3 linked regions of the Homo sapiens genome follow. The protein of the gene in region 1 binds, or shares a complex with, the protein of each later gene. Each region holds a gene or a part of one and is shown on either strand. Other genes may lie near its edges.

The links. The genes of interacting proteins can lie anywhere in the genome.
Region 2: CIAO1 (region 1) and MMS19 share a complex: the UniProt entries of both Homo sapiens proteins name them as parts of the MMXD complex.
Region 3: CIAO1 (region 1) and CIAO2A share a complex: the UniProt entries of both Homo sapiens proteins name them as parts of the CIA complex.

The regions. Positions count from the first base shown.
Region 1 is NC_000002.12:96,262,154-96,269,232, reverse strand, and holds the start of CIAO1 (probable cytosolic iron-sulfur protein assembly protein CIAO1), read right to left. Parts: upstream 3,009-7,079; 5' UTR 2,883-3,008; coding exon 2,744-2,882; intron 1,913-2,743; coding exon 1,764-1,912; intron 1,609-1,763; coding exon 1,497-1,608; intron 1,398-1,496; coding exon 1,309-1,397; intron 777-1,308; coding exon 575-776; intron 1-574. Other genes in the region: TMEM127 (transmembrane protein 127), read left to right, coding at 3,852-4,095. UniProt on the Homo sapiens protein: Key component of the cytosolic iron-sulfur protein assembly (CIA) complex, a multiprotein complex that mediates the incorporation of iron-sulfur cluster into extramitochondrial Fe/S proteins.
Region 2 is NC_000010.11:97,467,416-97,474,453, forward strand, and holds part of MMS19 (MMS19 nucleotide excision repair protein homolog), read right to left. Parts: intron 3,447-7,038; coding exon 3,360-3,446; intron 2,789-3,359; coding exon 2,714-2,788; intron 2,309-2,713; coding exon 2,231-2,308; intron 1,712-2,230; exon of another isoform or gene 1,690-1,711; coding exon 1,551-1,689; intron 992-1,550; coding exon 837-991; intron 189-836; exon of another isoform or gene 169-188; coding exon 90-168; intron 1-89. UniProt on the Homo sapiens protein: Key component of the cytosolic iron-sulfur protein assembly (CIA) complex, a multiprotein complex that mediates the incorporation of iron-sulfur cluster into apoproteins specifically involved in DNA metabolism and genomic integrity.
Region 3 is NC_000015.10:64,072,058-64,076,869, forward strand, and holds the end of CIAO2A (cytosolic iron-sulfur assembly component 2A), read right to left. Parts: intron 3,481-4,812; coding exon 3,435-3,480; exon of another isoform or gene 972-3,434; coding exon 874-971; 3' UTR 508-873; downstream 1-507. UniProt on the Homo sapiens protein: Component of the cytosolic iron-sulfur protein assembly (CIA) complex, a multiprotein complex that mediates the incorporation of iron-sulfur cluster into extramitochondrial Fe/S proteins.

The sequences.
Region 1 (7,079 bases):
TATGTCCTGGGCACCTCAAAGGAGAACCTAACTTACCTTCCCTCACCCTCATCTTCAACTGATTATGAGTCTGTGTCTCCGTTCGTGTCCCCATCCCTGCTTATCTGCCTTACACACTATAGCCAGACTGGCGTTTCTCAAGCAGAATTCCGAGGAAACATCCCTGTTCTGTTGCAGACTGTATGTAACTACTTTGCGTGCCTGTGAAGGCCACCCACCAGCCGACCCAACCCACTTTATTCCTCTCCAAACCCCAGACGTCCTATGCCCCATTTAAATGCATTACCACCCCTCAGTCTAAGCATTCCCGCCATTGTTATCTTTACTCACACTGTTGAGTTTTCACTTGAATTCTCACGTGAAATTCTCATGTTAAAATCCTACATACCCTTTTAAATTCAGATGAAACAACCCATTCTACAAAACTTTCCTGATTCTTCCAGCACTCTATCCAGAGCCCTCTTGTAGCACATCTTACCTTTTACCCCCATTTGCTCTGACTCATGTACGTGTCTTAGCAGACTGTGAACCCCTTGAGAGATGGGTCTTCTTTAGCTCTACTAATGGACCTCACCTTGTTCATTGCCTGGTAGATACTGACGCCAGATACGCACAGTACGGTCATCACTACAAGACGCCAGGCGCTGGCCACTCGGGTCAAAGGCCAAGCTCCACACAGTGGATTCATGGCCCTCAAGGGTGGCACAGCATACCCAGTCATCCTCTTCCTCCCGGTACAGCTTCACTGTGTCATCATAGCTGGCAGAAGCTAAGAGCTGGGGGAAGAGTGAAAGGAAACCCAACATGTGTCTGTGTGGCCCAGGAAGCAAAGGACAGGTCAGTTCCAGGTATCTGCTTTTATTTTATTTTATTATTTATTTGAGATGAAGTTTGCTGTTGTTGCCCAGGCTGGAGTGCAATAGCACGATCTCGGCTCACCGTAACCCCCGTCTCCTGGGTTCAAGTGATTCTCCTGCCTCAGCCTCCCGAATAGCTGGGATTACAGGCATGTGCCACCATGCCCGCTAATTTTGTATTTTTAGTAGAGACGGAGTTTCACCATGTTGGCCAGGCTGGTCTCGAACTCCTGACCTCAGATGATCCACCCACCATGGCCTCCCAAAGTGCTGAGATTATAGGTGTGAGCCACCACACCCAGCCGGATCTGTTTTTATAAAGGGACTAATGTTTTTTGTTCACAGATGGAACTCTCCGTAAAAGCTAGATTAAGGCTGAAAAGCAGAGGAAGGCTGGGCACAAGCCTGCACACCAGAGCCCTTCCCACAAGAGTCCCTGCTTGACTCTTACCTCCTGACTTGGGTGCCAAACCACATGCTTGACATCCTGTGTGTGGGAGTTGAGAACACTGACACATTCATACTCATCCTCTTCATCAACTGTGGGAGAGAAAAAGGGGACCCAAGAGCCGACCCTGTCAGGGACACAGAGGGGGCTGTCAGGTGGTTCCCAATCCACCTGGAGGGACCTGGCCTCACCTTCCCAGACCCAAACGCTCTTATCTCGGCTGCAAGTGGCCAGGAGGTTGCCAGATGGGGCCCAAGCCACTGACTTGACCTCATTTTCATGGCCCTCGAGAGTGGTTACACACTGTGAAAGGGGAAAGAAAATGAGAATTAACAGCAGCTAACACCCCTAAGCCCCTTCCCATGGGTACAGCCCAACTGGCGCAGGTTGGCTCAGGTTCCTGAACCAGCCCTGGGGAGGAAACAGGCAATAATTCTGGTCCCAACCAGCCTGGGTACCTCAAAGTCATCCTGGTTCTTCTTCCAAATGCAAGTGGTAGCATCAAAGCTGGCAGAGGCCAGGTAATTACCGCAGGGGGACCAGGCTACCTTCCGCACGGTGCGCTGGTGGCCTTCAGAAAGGACAGACTTGCAGATCCAGCTGTCACCTAAAGGCGGAGCGCAGGCCAGGCTCTGGAGCTGGGTGCAGCACCATGAAGCCATTCAATATCAGGGGCTAGCACTGGAATCAAGCTAGTGGGGGAAAGCTCAGGGAGTGTATTTCACAGCTTTTACAAAGATGCAAATGAATCTACTTCGTCTGGAAGCTTTTTTTTTTTTTTTTTTTTTTTTTTGAGACGGAGTTTTTGCTCTGATGCCCAGGCTGGGGTGCAATGGCACAATCTCGGCTCACTGCAATCTTCGCCTCCTGGGTTCAAGGGATTCTCCTGCCTCAGCCTCCCGAGTAGCTGGGATTACAGGTGCCCGCCACAACGCCCAGCTAATTTTGTAGTTTTAGTAGAGACGGGGTTTCACCATGTTGGCCAGGCTGGTCTTGACCTCTTGACCTCAGGTGATCTACCCGCCTCTGCTTCCCAAACTGCTAGGATTACAGGCGTGAGCCACCGCGCCCAACCTCTGGAGGCATCTTTCTAAAACAAATCTGATCTAAAATTGCTATTGGTTCCCCAATGCCCTCGGGATAAAATGTGACCATCCAGTCGCAAGTTACTCTGAAGGCCACTTTCCTAACACCTCTCTTTTCCCATTTTCCTGCCTCTGCAGCTAACACAATTCCCTTGACATTTCAGCTTGTCTGCTGACGTTTTTCCTCCCAACAGTCGCAGACTTCTTTGCCTGTAAAGCCCTTCTCGGCGTGGCTAACATCCCACTCTCCCTCCGCCAGGAACAGGTTCAGCCTCCCCTGCAGGCTGAGCGCCTGCACTACGCGCAGGCTGAGCCCTCAGCGCTGAGGGCCGCGCAACCAGGCTGGGCCTTACCCTCCGTGCCCCAGATGCGGATTCTCCGGTCGCCGCCGCACGAGGCCAGCAGGGTCCCCGCGGGGTTCCAGGCCAGGAACCAGCAGCGGGAGTCCGGGTGCGCCGGGACACGGCCCAGCAGCACCAGCGAGTCCTTCATGTCGGCCCGACGCAGGGGGAGGTGGGGGCGGGCAGAGTCCGCTGAGCAGACAGCGGGTCTCACCGCGCGCGTCTGCGTACCGCCCACTCCAGGCTTCCGCGGCCGACAGAGGCTCCCGCTTCCGCCGGAGGACCTGGGTCGCCCCGGAAACTCAACTGCCCACTGCTGCGGCCGCCATACCCTCTGGGAGTTGTAGTCGCTCCCCTCACCTCGGCAGGGAAAGCATCGCGGGACCGCCTCGAACTACCAGTCCCGTGAGGCCCTGCGCAGAGCCGGCGGCGCGCCCAGGCTGTGACGCGCGCGGGGGACGGGGCGGGGAGCCGGAGGAGGCGGAGGCAGAGGAGGAGGAAGCCGGAAGTGCATCGGCCCCGGGTCTGTCCGGGCGTTGCGGGATTGGGGCCTGGGAACGCTCGGCCCCCGGCAGCCGAGAAGCCCGTGACTGGGCTGAGCAGCACCATCCCAGCCCTGGGGCCTGCTGACTGGTGAGGAACAGTGGGCGGCGTGGGGAGGGTCTTTTCTGCGCACAGGTCGCACCCCAAACCGCCGGTCCCAGATCACGGGTCCCCGATCCCCGCGGCCCAGCCCGGTCCTCCGCCCCTCGGCATCCTCTGGCTGAGACCCTGACTCCGGGTCTTTGCTCTAGCAGTAGCCGATCCCCGATCCCTCCGCCCCCCACTCGAGTCTGCCCAGACCCCATCTGGCCCCTGGCCCTCTTCGGTTGTCGTCCCGCAGTCCCATTCCGGAGTCTCCTGTCTCCGCCCCCCGAATTCCCGCAGCCCTCCCCGTCTCCGTCAGCCCCGGGTCCCACCCCCCTATCCTCTGGTGTCAACCCTGACAGCCCAGTCCCGGCTTCACCTGCAGCGAACCCGGAGCGTTGCTATCCTCCACCGGACTGTCAGGCTCTGCGCGCCCCGCGGAGGTCGGCGGCGACCAGCAGCGACTGCGGAGCGACGGCGGGCGGCCCCGGGCATGTACGCCCCCGGAGGCGCAGGGCTGCCCGGCGGGCGCCGGCGGAGGAGCCCGGGAGGCAGCGCTCTGCCCAAGCAGCCGGAGCGTAGCCTGGCCTCGGCCCTGCCTGGCGCCCTGTCTATCACGGCGCTGTGCACTGCCCTCGCCGAGCCCGCCTGGTTGCACATCCACGGAGGCACCTGTTCGCGCCAGGAGCTGGGGGTCTCCGACGTGTTGGGCTATGTGCACCCGGACCTGCTGAAAGGTGAGGGTGCTGCGCGCTGGCCCTTAAAGCCTCGGTGGGGGACAGAATGTGTTCTGGCTGAAGCAGAGATAGCCAGGGACCAGACACTTGGTTGAAGGAAACGGCCCCATAACTGCCTGGTGTTCATGCCCACCAGGTGGCTCTGTTTGGGGTCCGGCCCCTCATTAATTCTGATGTTATTCAGCTAAGCACCTACTCCTCACAGCCATGTTAATCCGGACTGCTGCTATTTTAGGATTCTGCTGGAGGAAGGACGCTGTGTATCGAGAAAAGATAAGGGTGCTAGGTATCACAGTTAGCTGGCCTCTTCTAAGGATCCTGTGAAATACGGAAAAGCTTCTTTGGGGCAGACTGATTAATGGAGAAAAAGGAACTTTTAATATGACTAGGTTTTAAAAGATATCTTAGAGTTCTATGGTAATCGGATGCGTATTAGAGAAGAAGGGAATCTGTGGCATTTTAGGTAATCGGAAGACCGTTCCATTGCCACCCGCAGTACAACAGTCGGAATGTGGCTCTTGGAACCATTATAGGTGTGCCTGACAGAGGCAAGGTTGCTTTGTTCATCATCATGCTTTCCGGCCAGATAGACAGCAGACGATGGGAGGGTCCTATGGGCCCCATAGTTTATCCTGCCCATTCTTGTCTCCAGTAAAAATTGTGAAGTGTGAGGACAGGACTGGACTGTATCACCTGCTTTTTACCCTAACAATGATCAATGTACCCCAAACAGTCCTTAGTAACAGCATAGTTCATCAACCCCAAGGTCTTTTGAGCCATCTTGAAGGTCTTATATCCTCTCTGTGCTATCCTGTCTGTGCTATTCCCTGGCTGTGATGCATTCCAGATGTTTACTGCACCGCCTATCAGAAGCACTTCCTGTTAGATATCTGCGTGTTACCTCCTGAAGAATTCAGGCACTGGGATTTGGTGAAAAGGTCCAAGTTCCCCGCTGTGCATCGGACCATACTCTGCTTCTGCAGGTCTAGGCTGAAAAGCCTCATCCTTGTGGCCAAATGTTGCCTTTCTCTGAGTGTTCTCTTACTGTTTTGCATCTCTCTTGAGTTTTAGAAGCTGTAGGGTGATTTTGTAGAAGGTTGGGGACAACTGGTTGTTTCCAGATTTCACCTTAATGGTACTCTTTGCTGGGTTGGCTCATTAAAGCCAAAGTTATGCACACGACAGAGGCCTTATATGCAGCCTTTTCTCTGTCATGTTGCTAATGGCACAAAGAGCATTAAGCTTGAGTGAGTCTTGGTGGTTTTTCTTTTAGCACATTGCCCTGTACTTGCTTTCTTTGAAGCACACATACCACCTTCCCACCACTAGACCCATCAGATCTAGAAAGCTAGATCTCCGAAATCTAGCACTGCATGGGGTGTGCTTAGCTGTGGCTCAGAAAAATGAAGGATCTCCCCAAGGCTACCCAGTTTAGGGTGGCAGAGCTGGGACTACCCCACCTCTGTTGATGCCAATATAAAATGATGCCGTGTCATTTATAGTTTTTATCCTTTGTTTTACTTCAGCTGTCATAAGGAGCAATCTCATAATTATTTCACTTTGGTGTGCATCCTTGTCGAAGGCATGTTAAAAATAAAAGTAAATTTTTGAGCCGGGCGTGGTGGCAGGCATCTGTAATTCCAGCTACTTGGGAGGCTGAAGCAGGAGAATCGCTTGAACTTGGGAGGCCGAGGTTGCAGTGAGCTGAGATCGCGCCATTGCGCTCCAGCCTGGGCAACAAGAGCGAAACTCCATCTCAAAAAAAAAAAAAAAAAAAGAAAGGCCAGGAACTGGCTCACACTTCTGATCCCAGCACTTTGGGAGGCCGAGGCGGGTGGATTGCCTGAGGTCAAGAGTTGGAGACCAGCTTGGCTAACATGGTGAAAGAAACCCTGTCTCTACTAAAAATACAAAAATTAGCTGGGTGTGGTGGCACACGCCTGTAGTCCCAGATACTCTGAAGGCTGAGGCAGGCGAATCGCTTGAACCCAGGAAGTAGAGGAGTTGCAGTGAGCCCAAGATCACACCACTGCACTCCAGCCTGGGCAACAGAGCAGAGCAAGACTCCATCTCAAAAAAAAAAAAAAAAGTAAATTCTTGGTGCAGGTTCTTCTTTGTTCACATGTGTATTTACCCTTTCTAAGAAATTATTCGGGCCAGGCCAGGCATGGAGGCTCACACCTGTAATCCCAGTACTTTGGGAGGCCAAGGCGGATGGATCACCTGAGGTCAGGAGTTCAAGATCAGCCTGGCCAACATGGTGAAACCCCATCTCAACTAAAAATACAAAAATTAGCCAGGCCTAGTGGCTGGTGCCTCAACTACCCAGGAGGCTGAGGCAGGAGAATCGCTTGAACCTGGGAGGTGAGGTTGCAGTGAGCCCAGATCACACTACTGCACTCCAGCCTGGGCTACAGAGTGAGACTCCATCTCAAAAATTAAAAAGAAAGAAATTATTCAGGCTCCGTTTTGTCTTTTGCAAAGCATGTTTTCTTAACCTTTACATTACATTTGCTCACATATTTAGAGACCTTAACCTGTGTATAGTTTCTACTTGCTTGCCTGTGGCCATCTCCTAAGAGCAGTTTGTGCCCATTAATAGGAGAGTTGGCAGTGGTGCCTCATGAGCTATCACAGAAGAATCAGTAAGGAATCCGGAAGTCCTTGATTGCATCTTCTCTCCCTTTTCTTTGTACCTACTGGTTTTTTGGTACCCAGTGGGCCTTCAGACATGTAGTATCCTGTGTGACTGTGCTGATCCTCAGGGCCTAACAGATATCCTGACCTGAGAGCCTGGAGTATTCCACATCTCAAGAGGGAGCAGAGCTGTCAAGCACAGATGTGGTGCATATAGAGTTTTTTTTTTTTTTTTTTTAAATGAGACAGACTCTTGCTCTGTCACCCAGGCTGGAGTGCAGCGGCGCCATCTCAGCTCACTGCAACCTCCGCCTCCCGGGTTCAAGCAATTCTCCTGTCTCAGCCTC
Region 2 (7,038 bases), on another chromosome or scaffold:
ACTTTTCCACAGCACTCTTTGCCCTGCTATCCTTTATAGGCTGAAGTGTTCAACAGTCCCCAGAGCACTGCAATGGAAGGCAACCTCACCTTTGTCTTCATAGCTCCATTTCTGCTGCAGCTTCAAGAAACCCAGGAGCATTTCAAGGATTGTCCGCCGCTGGCTGCTCTGTAACGTTTCAAGGGGTACTAGAGTCAAAGAATATTTTAAAGGATTTCAATCCTGCTACTCTGGATATAGGGAAAATTCTTTCTTTCTTCCAAGAGATGGGGGTTTTGCTATGCCACAGCCAGGCTGGAATACAGTAGCATGATTATAGCTCCCTGCAGCCCCGACCTCCTAGGTTCAAGTGATTCTCTCGCCTCAGCCTCTTGAGTAGCTGGGACTACAGATGCGTGCCACCTTATCCAGCTAATTTTTTTTTTTTTTTTTTGTAGAGATGTGGTCTTGTCTTGTTGCCCAAGCTGGTCTTTAAATCCTAGCCTCAAGTGATTGTCCTGCCTTGGTCTCCTAAAGTGCTGGGATTACAGGCATGAACCAGCATGTCCTGCTTGGCTAATTTAAAAAAAATTTTTTTTTTTTTAGAGATGGGATCTCACTTTGTTGCCCAGGCTGATCTTGAACTCCTGGCTTCAAGCTATCCTCCTGTCTTGGGAGAATGATCCTTTTATGTATGAGACAGGGAAAAAGTGAGTAAGGGAAGCAGCAGCAGCAGCTAATGGGAGCAAAACCCAAGGTCTACTATGTTGGCCCAAGCTAAAACTTAGCTCACTCTCTGAGAAAGGGAACCTAGCACACAGGTCCCATCATTTCCCCCAAAGATTCTGCTCCCTTACCTGACTGTGCTTGTGGAACTGTTCCAGCAGTAAAGGCAGTACATTGCTGGTGACAGAGTCACAGGCCCGGGCAGATGCACCTGCAGCTGCCTGCAACAGCTTGGCACTAGGCCACACCAGTTTCATGTCCGGTTCACACAGGTGGTGCCTGCAGTCTAGAGAAGCAGCACATCACAGAGCTGGGGAGGAGGCCAAATGGTGCCTGACTCCCCTACAGTCCACAGAGGTTGGAGACTGAGACCCATGACAGTTTGCAAGCAGTTAACACTCAAATTGTTTTCAATTCAAAGTAGGGCTATCGCCCCCAAATCACCAAATATGTTGGGACTAAACAATAAAGGTCACTGGCCCTTAAGGAATGTCATTTGTTTTTTTTTTAGAGATGGAGTTTTGCTCTCGTTGCCCAAGCTGGAGTGCAGTGGCGCAATCTCAGCTCACCGCAACCTCTGCCTTTTCAAGCGATTCTCCTGCCTCAGCCTCCCGAGTAGCTGGGATTACAGGCGTCCACCACCACGCCCGGCTAATTTTTGTATTTTTAGTAGAGACGAGGTTTCACCATGTTGGCCAGGCTGGTCTTTAACTCCTGACCTCAGGTGATCCACCCGCCTCGGCCTCCTAAAGTGCAGGGATTACAGGCGTGAGCCACCGCACCCAGGCAAGGAATGTCGTTTCTATTGTGCTCACTCCCCTTCCTGGCTGCCACGGCCCCATTACCCTGTAGAATGTTGCTAAGGAAGGAGTCAAGGAGGTCCTCAGCATCAGCCCTCAGCACAGAGCGAGACAAACACGCAGTCAGGGAGTGGAGGGCCGCCAGGCCCTCTGCCTCCACCCGCTCACTTGCCGTCTGGAACACCTGTCAGGGAGGGATCCCATGGCTACTGAGGTGAGCCTGCACCAGATGAGACCCCACCAATCCACTGCCTATTTCCTTGTTGGAGAGGGGAGTGAGAACCTCTAGGACACAGAAATGGAAATTAACACCCCAACTGAGTGTCTTCTCAATTGGTGTGTTCTTACCAAGTCCTTAGTCACACTCAGGACAGAGACACATACTTTCTGAGAAACAAAAAGCCAACTCTGAGCAGTGGCTCTGCTCACCTTTCTATTCACCATGGTGCCAAAGGCACCATGACCTGCACTCCTTGCCACAGAAGGACAAGAAGTGGGTAATGTGCAAAGGTGATCAGCTGCTCTTACCAAGCAGCTGACCGTCACATAGGGACTCTCTCTCTTGTCATTCAACTAGAATTATGTCCCCCTACTTGCCTCCTGAATAACCAGGCATTATATCTTGGCCCTGGGGATGACAGAGGGAAAAGGACAGGATGTATTATTTCCCCTCATGCCTGACAATTGAAAGTTAACAGTAGTGAGTTTATCTGAGTGACACTCACCTCTCTGCGGATAGAAGCCCAAAGGCTGGGGAGGAAGTCCTTCAGTTCCTTCTGTCCATACACAGCACAGCAAGCATTCTGCCAAGGAAACCGCTGCTATCAGTTATGTACACACTCAGACACCCTAGGATGTGCAGGTACCTCAGCATAATGGCACCTGAAGGAGCCCTGGTCTCAGCAGAAAAACCAGTTAAGATTTTTAACAGTCCTACTAAGGGAACAGAGAAGTAGGAGATAACCCTGGTTGATAAAATAGAAGCCTAAAGAGGGAGTCCTGGTCAGCCTTTCCTCAGTTACTATGGGATGGGGGATGGGACACGACGATATGCAGCTGGGGGCTTCAGGTCGACACAAAGGCCCAAATCCTGGGTATCCTCTTCTGAGGCCCATGAACTGTTCCTTGGCTATCCTAGAATCTATATCCTTTAGGACCCCTAACTTGTCAAAAGGTAGCTGGGTCCTGCAAGGAGAAAAATCACTCACCAGAGTCTGTAGAGAATCCAACTTGGCACTCAGAACCTCAGAATCCACTTTCTCAATCAACAGGGGCAGCAGAAACTGTGGGACAGAAGGAAGATCTTAAGCCTGAGATGGGTGGTGTGTCAGTCACATCAAGGTCAACCCTGTCCTTGCCATCAGTCCCTAAAAGCAGGTACTACATCAAGGAGCTGTACTCAAGTCAGGAGCTATGAATGTAAGCTAACCTTCCTGCCAAGCAGTGACCAGAGCCCCACTACCTCAAAAACAGGCAAGTTGACAAAGTTACAGGATTTTAAAAGACAGCACCATATAGGGATTGGGTTTATTTATTTTTTTGTGTAGCGGAGACGAGGTCTCCCTATGTTGCCCAGGCTGGATTTGAACTCCTGGGTTTAAGTGATCCTTTCCACTCAGACTCCTCCTGAGTAGCTGGAACTATAGGTGTGTGCCACTGAATCCAGCTCTGGATTATGAAGAGATGGTAAAGTTTTCTACATCGAAGGTCTGAAGATACCTGCCACACAAGACACTTGCAGGGTGTCATGCCCTAAAATGTATACCAGATATTTTTTTCTCCATGCTTTTACTGCTCTTTCTTCAGAGCCATCTATGGGCAGAGGCTATATACCCTAACCTTGGCTAGACCCACCTCAGCAAATCGTGGTGTAGAAGCCAGCACAGCGCGAAGACTCAGGATGAGGTCTTCTCTCTGGATACCATGGGGATCATTAGGTGGCTGGAAAAGGGAGAAGGGCTGTGGGTTTGTGTAACATTTCAGACCACCTTGAACACAGGCTCGAACCTGGTAACCCTGCAGAACAGGGTGATACTCATACCCAATCAGGGAAGATAGTAAGATAATGAGGCCCCAGCAAGAAGACTTGCTTGATCTTAGGTACTCCTTGGGAACTTTTGTCTTTAGGCATTTTAAAAAATCTGATTACACATTTTCTATCATTTCACCACTCAGAAATAAGCATGCTTAACTTTCTGGTGTATTCCTTTCTTCGCTGATATATATTGTTACTATGTGCTAGTATATACTGTTTCCATATAAAATATATATATACTTAAAAATCATTTTGTACATGTGGTTTTTAATTTTTTTCACTTAACATATTAAGAACATTTTTATGGTATTATTCTTTCATAGCATTAGTTTTAGTGGCTATGATTTCATTTTGTGGTTGTACCAGTTTATCTAGATAATTCCTTGTTGATGGACATTTCCATTTTTTTCACCCTTATAAAAAGCTGTAATTCTGAAAACAGAAAGCCTTGATGGTTTCTGTACCAAGACGACAGACTGAAAACATATATCAGGTTTTCCTTTTCCTCTTTGCAAACTCCACCAAAAACATAGTAAAAGAAGGGATTTACTATTATTATTATTATTTTTTTTTGAGACAGAGTCTCACTCTGTCACCCATGCTGGATTGCAGTGGCTTGATCCTAGCTCAGTGCAACCTCCACCTCCTAGGTTCAAGTGATTCTCATGTCTCAACCTCCCAAGTAGCTGGGGTTACAGGCGCACCAACACACCTGGCTAATTTTTATATATTTTTTGTAGACATGGGGTTTCATCATGTTGGCCAGGCTGGTCTGGAACTCCTGACCTCGAATGATCCACCCACCTCAGCCTCCCGAAGTGCTGGGATTACAGGCGTAAGCCACCGAACCTGGCCTGGTTTCTGTTTTCATGACTGGACTTTGATAGAAAAGATAAAACTGTGGAATTCTCTTATAAAGTAACAAAAAGACAGAGGTACAAAATAGAAAACAAAAGGTCAGAAAATCAGAGGTCCAACAGAAGATTAATGAGAGTTCCAAAATGAAGGAACAGAGAAAAGAGAGAGGAAGAAATCATCAATTAAAGAATTCAAGAAAAATTTACAGGACTAATGGACACGGGTTACCAGATTGACAGGGCCTACTAAGTACCCAACACAGTACATGAAATAGACCAATACTAAGGCACATCACTGTGAAGTTTCAATGTATCGGGGTGAACCAAACATCAGTTTATAGAGAGGAAGAAAAAAATGGTAAATACAAAAGTTTATGAAACAGAAGAAATTCAGACTTCTCCACAGCAAATGAAAACTAGATAACTAGGCTTATTTATTTATTTGAGATGGAGTTTTGCTCTTGTTACACAAGCTGGAGTGCAATGGCACGATCTTGGCTCACTGCAGCCTCTGCCTCCAGGATTCAAGCGATTCTCCTGCCTGTCTCCCGAGTGGCTGGGATTACAGGCTCACGCCACCATGCCCGGCTAATTTTTTTGTATTTTTAGTAGAAATGGGGTTTCACCATGTTAGCCAGGCTGGTCTTGAACTCCTGACCTCAGGTGATCCGCCTGCCTTGGCCTTTCGAAGTGTTGAGATTACAGGCATGAGCCACCACGCCCAGCCAATAACTAGATTTAAATGTAGCAATGCCTTCAAAATCTTAGGAGAAAATAATTTCCATTTTTTTTTTGTTTTTGTTTTTGGTTTTTTGGTGACTGAGTCTGGCTCTGTCTTCCAGGCTGGAGTGCAGAGGCATGATCTTGGCTCAATGCAACCTCTGCCTCCCCAGCCCAAGCCATCCTCCCACCTCCACCTCCCGAGTAGCAGGGGCTACAGACTCGACCACCACGCCCAGTTAATTTTTGTATTTCTTATAGACAAGGTTTTGCCATGGTGCCCGGGCTGGTCTTGAACTCCTGAGCTCAAGCAATCCACCTGCCTCAGCCTCCCAAAGTAGCGGGATTACAAGCGTCAGTTACTGCACCTGGCCTCTTTCTCAGGTGCAATCATAGTGCACTACAGCCTCAAACTCCTGGCCTCAAGTGATTGTTCTGCCTCAGCCTCACAAGTAGCTGGGACTGCAGACATGTGCAACTGCATCCAGCTAGAATTCTCTTTTTATTTATTTTTTTTTTTGAGATGGAGTTTTACTCTTGTTGCCTAAGCTGGAGTGCAATGGCGTGATCTCGGCTCACTGTAACCTCCGCCTCCCAGGTTCAAGCAATTCTCCTGCCTCAGCCTCCCAAGTAGCTGAGATTACAGGCGCCTGCTACCACGCCTAGCTAATTTTTGTATTTCTAGTAGAGACGGGATTCCACCATGTTGGTCAGGCTAGTCTCGAACTCCTGACCTCAAGTGATCCACCCGCCTCGGCCTCTTAAAGTGCTTAGATTACAGGTGTGAGCCACTGCGCCCGGCCTAGAATTTCTATTCTTGAATTACATGCCCATAATGTCAAAAATGAGAGACAAGATTGAAGGCATTTAAGGGTTACAAATCTAAAAAATTCTCACTTCTTCATACATTCTCTCAGGAAAATACTAAAGGAAGTACACCATCAAACTGAGGGGGTAAACCACAAAATGAGGAATATGTGAACTCAGGAAACAGGAGATCTGATCCAAGAAAAAGGATAAGGGAATCTAGGATGACGGTGAAGGAAGAACCAATATCTACTCTGCATTAGGAGTAAAAATCAACCTGTTGACATTGTTTGGCTAAGAATGGTTTTAACATTTTTAATGTTTGAAACAAACCAAAAGAATATCTTGTGACAAGTGAAAATTATATGAAATTCAAAGTTTAGTGTTGATAACAAAAGTTCTATTGGGATATAGCTACTGTAGCTGTTCCTGTGTCTAAGGCTGTTTTTGTGCAGTAACAGCAGAGTTGAGGAGACCATATGACCCACAAAGCTACTGTCTGGCCTTTTATAGAAAAAGTTGGCCAGGCATGGTGGCTTATGCCTGTAATCCCAACACTTTGGGAAGTCGAGGCAGGTGGATGGCTTGAGCCCAGGAATTCAAGACCAGCCTGGGCAACATGGCAAAATCCTGTCTCTATAGAAAAATACAACAATTAGTCGGGAGTAGTGTCATGTGCCTATGGTTCCAGCTACTCGGGAGGCAGGGGTGGGAGGATCACCAGAGTACCAGAGTCCAGAGAGGTGGAGGCTGCAGTGAGCTGTGATGGTGCCACTACACTCCAGCCTGCCTCAAAAAAAAAAAAAAAAAAGGGAAAGAAAAAGTTTGCCAACCTCTTCTTAGAGTGAGCATATAAGCATAGTGAAGAAACTGAACCTTAAGCTCATCAGATCCACTATGATGGCACACAATACTGATTTGTGGCTGGATATGTGGCTCACACGTGTAATCCCAGCACTTTGGGAGGCCGAGGCAGGTAGATCAGTTGAGGTGAGGAGTTCGAGACCAACCTGGACAACATGGCAAAACCCCATCTCTACTAAAAAATATAAAAAAAAAATTAGTCAGGCATGGTGGCACGTACTGTAATCCCAGCTATTCAGGTGGCTGAGGC
Region 3 (4,812 bases), on another chromosome or scaffold:
CTAAGGTGAAAACAGCAATACCTTTTATGATCTAGCCTCAGAAGTCACCCATTGTCACTCTGCCATTCTTTATTAGCCACACCCATCAGCTCCAATTCAATATGGAAGTTAACTATACAAGGGCATGAATACCAGGAAGTGAGGATCTTGGGGGCCATGTTGGAGGCTACTATACTTCACATGACCATTAACCCCTAAAACAAACCAAATGAAGGACAGATAAAGTGCGGACCATACATTTAGGTTGGTTTAATCAAAACTTCTTTGGTGGACTTCTTGATCTTCAAAATTGTGTATGCCATCTAGCCTTCTCCACATTTGTTCCTTATCTATGAAAGGGTCCAGGACTCTCCTTGGAAGGAAGGAAGGCCCAATCTTAAGGGTTCCTTTTGGTTCTCAGATCTCTGATTCTACAAAATAATCAGCAAAAATAAAGCTTTGAAGATATCCTTTAGGAGTTGACATTTACACTGGAATTTACAATTCAATAAAAACAGTGAGTCATTATAAGAATCATCTGCTTATTTATTTTACAGAGTAATGATTTAAATTGAGTACATTTGGGCACAGTAGATATTTGACACGAAAAATAGTTGTATCAGAATGAGCATCAGAAAAATAGCAACTCATCTTGCACATAATAACTAGAAAATATTATTCTGTCTGATCATTTAAGTGTTACAAATCCTGAGAATGTTATACATTGAACAAATTAGGTACTACCTTATAATTAAATCTCGCTTGGAAAGAATCCTTTAAAAAATACTCTGAGGTACAAATCACCTATGTATTAAACATGAGTCTCTGACATTATACAAAGAGTTTAAACAAATATATCAAACAATTACAGGCCAGTGGCTCTTAAAACAGCTATCAGTCAGGTTCAAGGACACACTGTTCCACAATTTCCCGTAAGTTGGGGTTTTCCATTGCAGCTGCCACTCGCTCTTTGTCATTTATCTGCTTATTGACTGAAAAATACACAGACAAAAGTTAGCAGAAGAACTGTGTCAATATACAGCACCAGACAGTATTTTTATTAGCCTGCTGAAACAAAAACTTTAACTCCTTGAGAACTTAAACCTGTTTTTGGCTAATTACTCATAATGTAATTTCCCATCTAGAAGGCAGACTTAAGAGAAAAATATCTACTAGAATTCTACTACTTAACCACATCTATTTTTTTCTTTCCAGTCTTTGTCCATACACATATTTTTATACAGTTACATTCAGAGTAAATATAATTTTGAAAATTGCTATTTTTTCCCCCATAAGCCTATATTTTAAACTACAGGGTTATTTAACATGGTAAAAGTCTTAAGTGTTCTAAAGTAATTATGAAGACTATGCTACAATGAATACCTTTAAACATATAGCCTTCTTTTTGGAAATATTCTCAAAAATGGGATTATTTTTAAGAGTATGAATATTTTTATGGTGTGATTCATATCATTGATTTACTTCCTAAAATTACTCACCAGTTTATATTGTCAACACCAATACATGAGCTATCAGTTTGGCAACAATACCTGGTATTATTATCATTGTTATTATTATTCTTTGAGACAGGGTCCTGCTCTGTCATCCAGGCTGGAGTGCAGTGGTGCAATCATAGCTCACTGTAACCTCCAACTCCTGGGCTCAAGAGATCCTCCTACCTCAGCCTCCCACAGGCATGAACCACCACACCTGGCTAATTTTCAAATATTTTCGTAGAGACAGGGTCTCACCATGTTGCCCAGGCTAGTCTTGAAATCCTGGCCTCAAACTCCTTCCCTCAAGGCATTCTCTCGCCTTGGCCTCCCAAAGTGCTAGGGTTACAGGTGTGAACCACCATGCCCGGGCAATAGCTGGTATTATTTAATAAAAACAAATACACATATATACATACATAAAACAGGAGATGGAAAACGGCTCAATATTATTGTCATAATTTGCATTTCCTTGACTAATAGGAAAATAGAACATTTTCCATGTGCATATATTAGTTCTTCTTGCATGAATTTCCTGTTCATGTCTCTATTAATCTACTAGATCTTTTTTTAAAATTAGTTTGAATGGATCTTCATATAATAAAGGTATTGGCCCATTATGTTTTCTGTAATTAGCTAACAGCATTCTTAATAGAAGAGTTCAAAAGAGAGACGACTATATTCTTAATGTGGATTGAGTTTTCTGGGCTGCCGCTGAAATGTCTCATGTAGAAGACACACAAACATACACATATTCCTGCGAAAATACTTTCAATTTGGTTTCTTCCTACTACAATGTAGGCTCCACAAAGGCAGGAATGTATCTCAAAGGCTGAACTGTACCCACACATAGAAGGCACTTAATAAATACTTACTAAATGAAAAACAAGACTCATAAGACTTAATACTATTGCTGCTGTAAAATCCTATCATTCAAGGAATTTCAAAACGATAACCTGAGTGGATTTAGGGTACCTAAACTCTTATTTTTCTAAATTACAGGTAGAAGCCCTCAGCTCGTGGGGTTTAAAGAAATTCAGCCCACAAAGAGTATAATAATCTACATGTCTAGAACTATAAATAGGGCATGGTTTTTAACAGTTTTCATGACAGTACCTAAAAAGTTTCCTGGATAGGCTGTTCCTCTGGAAGCAGCAGGCTTCCCTCTCTATAGCTCTCTTTTATGTAGGAGATTTTGTGTGTCTCTCTCCAGCCCTGTGTATGCCTTTCTGAGTCTTCTTGGTATCTATCTCACTGTTGCTCTTCCTCTATTAGCTCTTTCTTCCATTCCTCTGCTATTTTTTCCCACCTTCTCAATTTACTTAGTGATGAAACTTAAGTACAACATGCCTTTTAAATGTATTTCTCATTATTTGCACTCTATCATTTGTAGATTAAAAACATTAAAATTATGTTTTTAATGTAACACAGGGATCATACAGAACATTTTGTTTTTTGCTTTTCCCAAACCCCACTTCTGCTATTTTTAAGTAGCTACTGATTGATTTCTCTCTGTAGGCCAGAGGTCCTCTATATAAAAAAGGTTCCCCACTCCCATTCTAATATACTAACCCAGAGAGACAGCACCTACCCCAAGATTCACTAAAGCTCTACTTGCTAGACCTTCAATTTCAAGTACACAGCTCTCTATCCTGTCACCAAAGAAAAGAAGCCTACTTAGAGCTCATAAGTCAAGGTCCCCAGCACTGGATATTCTTTACAGATGTGTAGCCACTGGCCTAAACCAGTCAACATCCGTGGGCTCTAGTGCACTCGGAGTCCACTGCAAAAATTACTTCTTTGAAATGCCTAGGTTTCCTCACCTAGGAAGGAAGAGCCAATAACCAATTGTGCACTTTTTTGAAAGTAACCCAGTAGATTCTTGGCTGGCAGAAGAATCCAGTATCCAAGATAAAATACTATCTGAAGTTGTTTTTCAATTATGTTTCAACATTCACTTACTGTCTTCTTCTGTTGAGTGGGTTCCTTCAGAAATGTAGATTTCCAACTGGAAAGTGGGAAAAAAAGTAAAAGAAAAAACATTAATGCATTCTAAGATAAGAGAGTGAAGTGGAATGTACAGTAAATTCAAACATCTAGGGATGAGTGCCCAAATCCTGTTTCTTTTTTTTTTTTTTTGAGATGGAGTCTCACCCTGTTGCCCAGGCTGGAGTGCAGTGGCATGATCTCGGCTCACTGCAACCTCCGCCTCCTGGGTTCAAGCAATTCTCCTACCTCAGCCTCCCAATAGCTGGAATTACAGGCAGACGCCACCACACCCAGCTAAGTTTTGTATTATTATTTTTTTTTTTTAGTAGAGATGGGGTTTCGCCATGTTGGCCAGACTGGTCTCAAACTCCTGACCTCAGGTGATCCGCCTCGGCTTCCCAAAGTGTTGGGATTACAGGCGTGAGCCACTGCGCCCAGCGCCCCCCAAATCCTGTTTCTAACATCAGAGACATAGGGACAAATCCCCCACATCCTTCTCTAAAAAAAAAAAGGACTGAAATGAGTAGGATTTTTTATTTTGTTCACCTGGAAAAGGCCTGCAGGTGGTATTTCCATTAATTTTTTTATGAATACACAAAAATATCATTTTACACAAATGAGATCTCATATGTGTGGTTTTACTTAAGAATATCTCTTTTCTGCACTCTACTTCTTCCCAACTCGGTATCTAAACTTCCTCCTGCCCTGCTACTGACTCAGGAAATCTACAATAACAATCTAGTGTGGTTTCTTCCATATTCTTCTCTTTACCCACATAATCTTACACAGATTTTACACACACACACACCCACATATCAGGGTTGGAAGTTTCTTCACATTGCTTGTTTTACAAAAATGGGATCACAATATAGTTTTCAGCATCCTTCTTTTCTCATTCATTATTATCATGCTAAATTTATTCTCAAGTATAATACTGGTTAAGCTATCCCTCCTGGCCCTGCTGCACCTATAGACATGAGCTACCCTCCAAGACCCAGAGCTTTTAAGACAACCTACAAAATTATTGCAAATCCTGTGGTAAAGAGAGTATGCTGTAATAAAGACGTCTACTTTCCAGAGAACACTGGAACATATGAACTAATTTTTATTTACTTATTTACTACGGAGATAAACATTTCTCATGAGTGAGAAAAATCATAACTTATTATAGTTAAAAGGGACCTTAAAGGTCATCTAGTCCAATCTTTTTTTTTTTTTTTTTTTTGAGACAGGTCTTACTCTGTCGCCTAGGCTGGAGTGCAGTGGCGCGATCATGTCTCACTACAGCCTCGACTTCCTGGGCTCAGGTGATCCTCCCACCTCAGCTCCCACACTCCCACCCCTCTCCTCC